3 separate regions of the Homo sapiens genome follow, and regions 2 and 3 are each linked to region 1. Evidence: fine-mapped expression QTL. A gene starts in region 1. Each other region holds a variant in brackets. All regions are shown on one strand. Distances are between the middles of the regions.

Evidence for each region. PIP is the estimated chance that this variant, and not a neighbour inherited with it, causes the effect.
Region 2: its variant is fine-mapped to the expression of ST14 in whole blood (TOPMed, PIP above 0.99).
Region 3: its variant is fine-mapped to the expression of ST14 in whole blood (INTERVAL, PIP above 0.99).

Annotation. Positions count from the first base shown.
Region 1 is chr11:130,158,485-130,161,240 of GRCh38, forward strand. ST14 (ST14 transmembrane serine protease matriptase) reads left to right here and starts at 1,298. Exons shown (of 19, transcript NM_021978.4): 1 at 1,298-1,576. The coding sequence starts at 1,496. RefSeq lists silencers at 1,177-1,296, 1,377-1,446 and an enhancer at 2,534-2,756.
Region 2 is chr11:130,124,234-130,126,989 of GRCh38, forward strand. APLP2 (amyloid beta precursor like protein 2) reads left to right here. Exons shown (of 17, transcript NM_001142276.2): 8 at 2,467-2,597. Among named protein-coding and RNA genes, the nearest start is that of ST14, 34 kb to the right of the region's middle. The variant G/A (reference allele first, on the strand shown) is at 1,578.
Region 3 is chr11:130,071,947-130,074,702 of GRCh38, forward strand. The region is part of intron 1 of APLP2 (amyloid beta precursor like protein 2); the gene reads left to right. Among named protein-coding and RNA genes, the nearest start is that of APLP2, 3.4 kb to the left of the region's middle. The variant A/G (reference allele first, on the strand shown) is at 1,178.

The DNA of each region.
Region 1 (2,756 bases):
GGCACGGTGTTAAGGGAGGACAGGGCAGAGTGTGAAGCTGGGCTAAGGAGGTTGGATTTGATCCGGGAGACACGGAAAGTCATAAAGGAGCTGTGGTTTCAGATTTACCTGACTGCTTTGTGTAGGAGAGATCAGAGGGTGGCAGCCCAGAGGCAGGAGATCTTTCTTAACCAGGCAAAGGGCTCTGAGGACTCGAATAGCGGTCTTCTAATGCGCAGGAATGGAAGGGCTATGCTTGTCAGCAGAGTCTTGATCAGATTTGGAACTAATTGGATATGAGATGTAAGCAGGGTGGAGAATCAAAGATGATTCCAGGATTTGAGCCTGGGAGAATGCTGCCATTAGAATTAGAGAAAACAGTGGAAAATGGGCAAGTCAGGGAAGGAAGATGGGGCTTGTTGATCTCAAAGCAGGGATTTTTATTTTGTTCACTCCTGTTTCCCTGTACCCAGGACAGTGCTTAGCGCCTAGTGTGTGCTTGGTAATGTTCATTGGCTACAGAATACAGTAGAACATAAATGGAGACGTCCCCAGGCGACCGCTAAGGCAGAACTGGCACTCCTTGGTGGTGTCTGTGCTGGGAGGGAGGTCTTCCTGTCTGAAGTCGTAAGATGAGACGTGCTGCCAAGAGAAAAAGCTTAGAGAAGAAAGGGATGAAACTGAAGGGAGAACTTTGGGAATCATGACATTTAGGACTAGAAAGGAGGACCGGAATCCAGGGAAAGGGGGCATTTGAGGAAGCATCAGATGCTGCAAGTGGGCGAGGGGCGTTGGGATGGCTCAGAGGGCATCTGGTGGCACAGCTCATGTCACTGGGCCTCCCCAGGGTAGCCGGGCGCAGGCCAGCAAGCGCCTCCCGCCTGGAGAACAGGAGGCTGCGTAGCCGACGGGGAGCCTGGGCCAGGGGCGGTTCTGGTTTCTGTTTGGTTTTGGGGGGTTCATAAATGCGATTTAGTCCTGTAGCAAAGTGAGCAAGGTGAAGGGGAGAGACCGGAGGCGCATGAGGGAGGAGGGAAAAGATGGTTGGCATCAAGGAGGTGGATAAAGGGCTGCCCTCCCGGGGCAGGGCCCCTGGAGGGCCGGAGGGGTGGTGAACGCCGTCGTGGTGATGGTGAGGGCCTTAGCGACCACCACCCGAGTGAGGCCCCCTCACCTTCAGGCCCAGAGCCGAGGGGAGGAGCCTCCCCCAGGGCCGGCGGGGGCGGGCAGGTGAGCCGGGCAGGTGCGCAGGCGAGCGCGGCGGGCTGGGCGGGCCGAGGCCACACCCTGAAACTACCTGCGTGGGCCGGGCCGGAGTGTGAGAGCGGAGCTGCAGCCGGAGAAAGAGGAAGAGGGAGAGAGAGCGCGCCAGGGCGAGGGCACCGCCGCCGGTCGGGCGCGCTGGGCCTGCCCGGAATCCCGCCGCCTGCGCCCCGCGCCCCGCGCCCTGCGGGCCATGGGAGCCGGCCGCCGGCAGGGACGACGCCTGTGAGACCCGCGAGCGGCCTCGGGGACCATGGGGAGCGATCGGGCCCGCAAGGGCGGAGGGGGCCCGAAGGACTTCGGCGCGGGACTCAAGTACAACTCCCGGCACGAGGTGAGCGCGGGCCGGGGACCCGGGGCGCTGGGAAGCTCCTGCCCGCCCGACCCTGCAGCGCGGCGCTGGGCTCGGCCGGCTCCCCTGGCGTGTCCGTCGGTGGCCGAGCTCTGGGCGCACAGGTGGAATTTCCTGTTCAGCGGGTGCCGGGCCGCGGGCGGGCGGGGCTGGCCGGACCTTTGGTACCGGACCGGCTGCGCCCCGCCAGGGGGAGGCGGGAAGCCCCTGGGCCTTCCTGCGCCCTCGGTCCTTTCTTTCCCTGAGTTGAAAAAAGGGGCTCCGTCTCGGCCCCTCCATGACTCTCGCGCTGTTAGTGAACATCTGGAAGAAACCAGGGGCTTGGAGTGGGGTTATTTGGGAGGAAGTGAAATTTCAGGAGGGTTTGGAGTCTCAGCCATCCTTGGCCTCTGCAGAAAGTTTCTTTCGTCTCTCTCCTTCCCCGTCAAAAGGCGCTTTGGGACCTCGCAGAGGACAACTGGGAGGCCAGGGCTTTGGCTGCCATACGGGCTGGAGCTAAGAACTCCAGAGTTGGGCTTGCCTGGGCTTCTCGAGAGGGGATGGAGCCCTTTGGGAAGGCGGCTGTATGGGAAGGGATGTGGGAACACACATGTCTTGAGCCTTTTGCGAAGTACCGAAACAGGAAGCTCTTCTTTGGCAGAAAGAACAATGAAAGACCTATTGAAAGATCTCAAAAAGATTACATGTTCCTGTATGGAGTTGGGGATGGGTCGCTAGTCACTTCATTGACGGACCCACCTAGGTGGTAGTGCCCGGGCGGGACCAGCAGCCAGGTCTCTACCCTCTCTGTCCAAGGCAGACCCCCAGGTTTCCTGGAAGGCCAGGGCATACCAGGTCAGGGCGGCGCTGAGAGGCAGGGGCTGTGTGGCAGAGAGTTTTGCTCCTCTGCAAATGATGGCCTCCCTGCCCTGCCAACCCTCACTTTCTCCCCTCCTTCCGGGTGCCCCTGGGCTCCATAGTCTCCGCCGTTGCTCCCTAAGTCAGGCCTGATTTTGGTGCTGTCTCAGATCAATTCCTTTTGTCCAAGCAGCATCCCGACCTAGGGAGCTTGCAGAAAATCAGACGCTGGGGCTTTGGAGGCTGCCTGCACCACAGACAGGACCTGGGGCTGGGCTCTGCTATTTTCTCCACTTTTCACCCTCAGCAAGGAGGAAAGCTTCCA
Region 2 (2,756 bases), 34 kb before region 1:
TCGAAAGGAGTGACAGTGAAGTACTTTGGGCAGTCTAGAATATTGAAATATCTTGCATAATGCACTCTAGAGAGAGCTAGCAGCCAAGTGGTAGTGACTCACTCTGTTTCTTCAATATTTTGCAACCGGGTCACACAGCTTTAGGAAGTGAGAGGATTTCAGTTGGTGTGTGCTTTGGTGTGACAGGAAGGTCAGTGGTTCAGTTGAGTTGGGTTTATGCTGGACGTTGGTAGAAAGAGTTTCTACCAAGAGTTTTCCCTTTTCTCCATGGCTACTCCTTTTTCTCGTTAAGACCTTCAGTCTCTCACCTTGCAGCACTAACCTACACATTAGGAAAATCCTCAGGCCAGACAGTTTTTCTTGGTTCCTACTCTGGAATTTGTTGGAGTAATAATTTGCTATGAAGAATTTGGCTATAGCTTCTGACGGTTTTTCATTCACATGCCTTCATGTTCCCTCTTCCTTCCTTCTACCAAAAGATCTTTCAAATCTTAATGTAATATGGCAGTGCCTTGAGTGCTTCCCTTCCAGCTCCAGGAAAGCTGTTTTTATTCGGTAACAGTTGAAAGGTGAAAGAAAAGGAGGCCTTAGGGAACCTTGGTGAATAAACTTTGCGTTTTCAGGAAAGATTTAGAAATAGAAATTATTGTGATACTTACTGCTTTGTAAAACTTGGACTGAAGCCTGAGGAATCCCACTGAGTGTGGAGGTGGTGATCTCTACCCGAAGGGTCAGCTGGGTGGTGCTGTGAGACATGATGGAGTGGCAGGTCTGTAAAACTCCCGTTTGCTGTGGCTTGGATGAGATTTGCCTCGGAGAAGCTTTGTGTTCATGTTCTTGTGGGGCCTCTGCCTGGAGGGCTTTGCAGGTTGAGAAGCATCAAGTTTACTTCCAGTGGGAGCGTTTTTGTTCTTCTTTGAAGGGGCTGAGGCTGGCGGATGTGCCGGCTTCATGAGTGGGTGATTCCACAGGGACCGAGGGTGTCTTCAGAAAAAAGCATTTCGGCCCGCTGTCCTCTCCACTCTGGTCCCAGGGAGGCTGGAAGCAGCCTGTGTTTGCTGTTCCCTTTTTCCAGTCCAGCAATGTGAACCAAAGGCTCCGTCTCCAGCGCTCAGGCCTTTATAGCACAGGCATGTGTCACTGATCCGCATGATGGACTGCAGTGCTTGAAATTCTCCTCCACTGAACTTGCGAGTGTCTTGGGGAATGGCATTTACCAAGTTATCGATTCTAATTTAGTTAATCTGAAAGTGGGATATTGACACCCTTTTAAAACTTATGTAGGGCTCATATTCTTCATGACTTTAGTTGTCGTTTTTAGGTCTGTTAAATGGGCAAATAAAAGATGCTTCCGACAGAAAAAAGTTGAACTGGCTGGCTAATTTGTAGCTGTATTCATCAATTATATGGTTGTTTTAATGTATTAAAATGATACAATTCTAGAAATTAGGTGAATTTGCTTCTGAATTAAAAATCAGTTGAACCTTGGCATTCACTCTCCACTTAGCTCTGAAATTGTGTCATAATCTATCAAGCAAGTCCACACCAGCTTGGGAAATCTTGCATGAATTAGGCTA[G/A]TAAGTGTTACCTTAGGTATGTCTTGAGAGGCTGACTGAGTAAACTTGTCATCTCAGTCCTTTCCCTTATCAGGCTAAATTCCATCGTGCAGAGACTTGCTTGGGCCCCATGAGAGATTATGCCCATCCAGCAGTCGGGGGTGCTCCAATGGGCCTGTGCTCTGGGGAACGCTTGGGAAGCCCTATTGGTCAGTGTCATGGATCAAAAAGCCCTATCTTCATATCGGTGAAAGGTGTCCTTGTCAAATAGAGCAACTCAGTTTTATCCTTGTTGGTTCTGTCACTGATGGTGGGGCTAAGAGTCCTTCACTGATACTGAAAACTCAAAATTATAGCTGGAGTGATGGGGACTTTCTCTACCCAGCGTATATGCAAAGAACATTCACTTGAGCCTGTTTTCTGTTGTAAATTAAGACTCAAAGATAGCCAGAAGAGCAGAGGTACCTGAGTAATAAATTTCTTTAAAAATAAGGAATTGCATAAAAGTGCCTCTACAGGGTCTGATTCCTGCCCTTGTCTCTGTTCAGATGCTCAGTTACGAGCAATAAGGTAGCTATTGTTTAGGTTTCCAGGGTTCGAGCACTGAAGGGAAGGTATAGAAGAAACCACCTCTTTTTCAGCCCTGAGGTCTTAAGTAGATGCCTCACTGGTGCTGAAGCTGCCAATAAATTGCTGTATTAGCGTGGGCTGACATGGTTGATGAATATTGTGTAAGGAAGATTGCCCACTGTAATCTAACCAAGTGAAGTCTTGGCAGATAGCAGCACCCTGCACTTAGAGAATGCCACAAAACAAATTGAGTCCATCCTGCAGGTCCTGAGCTGGGTTTTCTTCCTAGAGCACAGTGCATCTGATCCCAAAGAGAACTCCCTCTGTAATTTTGTTTCAGTTCCTCCAACTCCTCTGCCAACCAATGATGTTGATGTGTATTTCGAGACCTCTGCAGATGATAATGAGCATGCTCGCTTCCAGAAGGCTAAGGAGCAGCTGGAGATTCGGCACCGCAACCGAATGGACAGGGTAAACCTTGACAATTTCTTCATCTTCATGGTACTTGGCTTTGGGTAGCATGGTTCTCATAGCTGAAGAAAAGTAATAGCTTCTCCCTAGATTGTCATGCTGATGTATAAGGACTGGTGAGTCAGGAGAGAGTTACCAGTGGAGCTGCCTTCTGGGTGG
Region 3 (2,756 bases), 87 kb before region 1:
AGCTTAATTTAGATGAGAGTGGCCTAAATCAGGATGTCTTTGGGAAGGCCCTGATTGAGATTAGCGAAAGGGATTCTGGCCAAATCCCTGATCAAGTTGCTTGGCACAGAATTATTGATTGGCAAATCTTTAGTGTTGCTTGGTGTTGACTGAATTAATCTCTTACACCTGTTTAAAAAGAAAAAGCTCACCTCTGGACTCAGGGTCACTTCCTCTCTTAAATCCGAGACAAGTTCTCCTGTGTGCATGCTCCCATTTGGGACTGAGACAGTATTGTGCTGAAACCCCGCATACTGTGCAGTGGATGACTAGGCTCCTGAGAACCGGAACTTGAGTTTGTTCTGTCACATTTGAAAGAAAGAAGGCCATTTGATTGCCAGTTTTCTGGAAACTCAAACCCAAATTAAAGGATGTCAACTGAGGCAGAGTAGAGAAGGCTTTGTGTTGGTGTTTCTGACAGGTGGTATGGGAGATGTGTAATTGTACCTTGGAGAGAAACCTTGGTGTGCTTCTGATAGGAATATCGTCTTTTTTTTTTTTTTTTTTTTGATACGGAGTCTCGCTCTGTCCCAGGCTGGAGTGCAATGGTGGGATCTCTGGGCTCACTGCAACTTCCGCCTTCCGAGTTCAAGCGATTCTCCTGCCTCAGACTCCCAAGTAGCTGGGATTGCAGGCGCCTGCCACCACGCCCAGCTAATTTTTGTATTTTTAGTAGAGACAGGGTTTCACCATGTTGGCCAGGCTGGTCTGGAACACCTGATCTCAGGTGATCCACCTGCCTCGGCCTCCCAAAGTGCTGGGATTACAGGCGTGAGCCACAGCGCCCGGCCCGTTATTTTTATCATAACTATGTTTTAAAAATCTTTTGATAAATACGATAAACTTCAGTTTTATCAATTAGTTCCTCCTTTTGTAGAGGGAATTTGTTTTACCATCTAAAGCCAGGCTTTCCCAGGGTGTAGCCACAAGCCACATGTGGTTATTGAGTCTGTAGGGTGACTAGTGTGAATGAGGAGTGAATTTTTCATTTTATTTAATTTTAATTAATTTAAGTTTACATTTAAAATCTGATTCAGTGGTTGGAAAACTTTTAACTGAAATAATTTGGTTATGCGAATTTACTTTTAAACTGTACATTTTATGAAATCTAAATGTAGATCAAGTATTTCCTATGAAA[A/G]TTTAGCTTCTGAATTGAGATGTACTGGAAGTGTAACATACACATCAGATTTTGAAGATTTAATACAGAAGAATTAAAATCTCAATTTTTGTATTGACTAAATTGAAACAATACTTTAGACATGGGCTAAATAAAACATTAAAATTAATTTCACTTGTTTCTTTTCACTCTAATATGGTTCCTAGAAAATTTAATACTATGTATGTGGCTCACATTGTATTTCTGTTAGATGGTGCTGATTTAAAATTTTGCTTAAAGTTGGTCCTGCATATGTTTTTATTAGCAGAATTTTTTAATATGTTCCTATATTTTTCCACATAAAGTCTTGCTGGAAGTTGGCCCAACATGCTCTTAAGTATTTTTGTTAGAACAATTTTGAATGTGTTGATTTTTAAACTTTTTCAATTAAAAATGTTTTACTTAGAAATAACTTTAATCACCAGGCGCGGTGGCTCACGCCTGTAATCCTAGCACTTTGGGAGGCCGAGGTGGGTGGATCACGAGGTCAGGAGTTCGAGACCAGCCTGAGCAACATGGTGAAACTCCGTCTCTACTAAAAATACAAAAATTAGCTGGGCGAGATGGCGTGCGCCTGTAATCCCAGCTACTCAGGAGGCTGAGGCAGGAGAATCTGGGAGGTGGAGGTTACAGTGAGCCGAGATCACACCACTGCACTCCAGCCTGGGCAACAGAGCGAGACTCCATCTCAAGAAAACAAGAATAAAAAAAAGAAATAACTTTAATCTTATAAAAAATGCAAAAATTGTACAATTTTCTTACCCTTTACTCAGATTCACCAATTGTTAACATTTCTTCTAGTCACATTTGCTTTACTACTGCATTTTTTGCCAAATTATTTGAGAGTAAGTTGCATACGTCGTCCCCCATCCCCTTTACCCCTGAGAACTTCAGTATATATTTTCTAAGAGCCAAAGACATTGTCTTACATAGGCTTAGTACAGCCATCAACCTAATGAAATTTAACATTGATACAATACTTGGATCTTATCTGCTGTCGGTTTTCTAGTTAGTTTGTTGACCCAATCATGTTCTTTATAGCATTTGAAAACATGTTTTGTTGTTGTTGTTGTTGTTTTGTTTTTCTTTTTTGAGTTGGAGTCTCACTCTGTCGCCCAGGCTGGAGTGCACTGGCATGATCTCGGCTTACTGCAACCTCCGTTTTTCAGGTTCAAGCGACTCTCCTGCCTCAGCCTCCAGAGTAGCTGGGACTACAGGAGCCCACCACCATGCCTGGCTCATTTTTATATTTTTAGTAGAGACAGGGTTTCACCATATTGGCCAGGCTGGTTCCAAACTTCTGACCTTGTGATCTGCCTGCCTTGGCCTTCCAAAGTGCTGGGATTACAGGCGTGAGCCTCCACACCTGGCCCCTTTCAAGATTGTTTAATTCTGTTTACCCTTACTAAATTTTGAGGCTTTTGGATTTTCTTTCTAAAATAACAGAAGAAGAATTCTATAGGTAGTACATATTCATTGTAAGAAATTTAAAAGTACAGATAACCAATAAGAAGTGAAAAATGACCTAAAATCTTATTCCCCAGGGAAACCTTACTGTAAT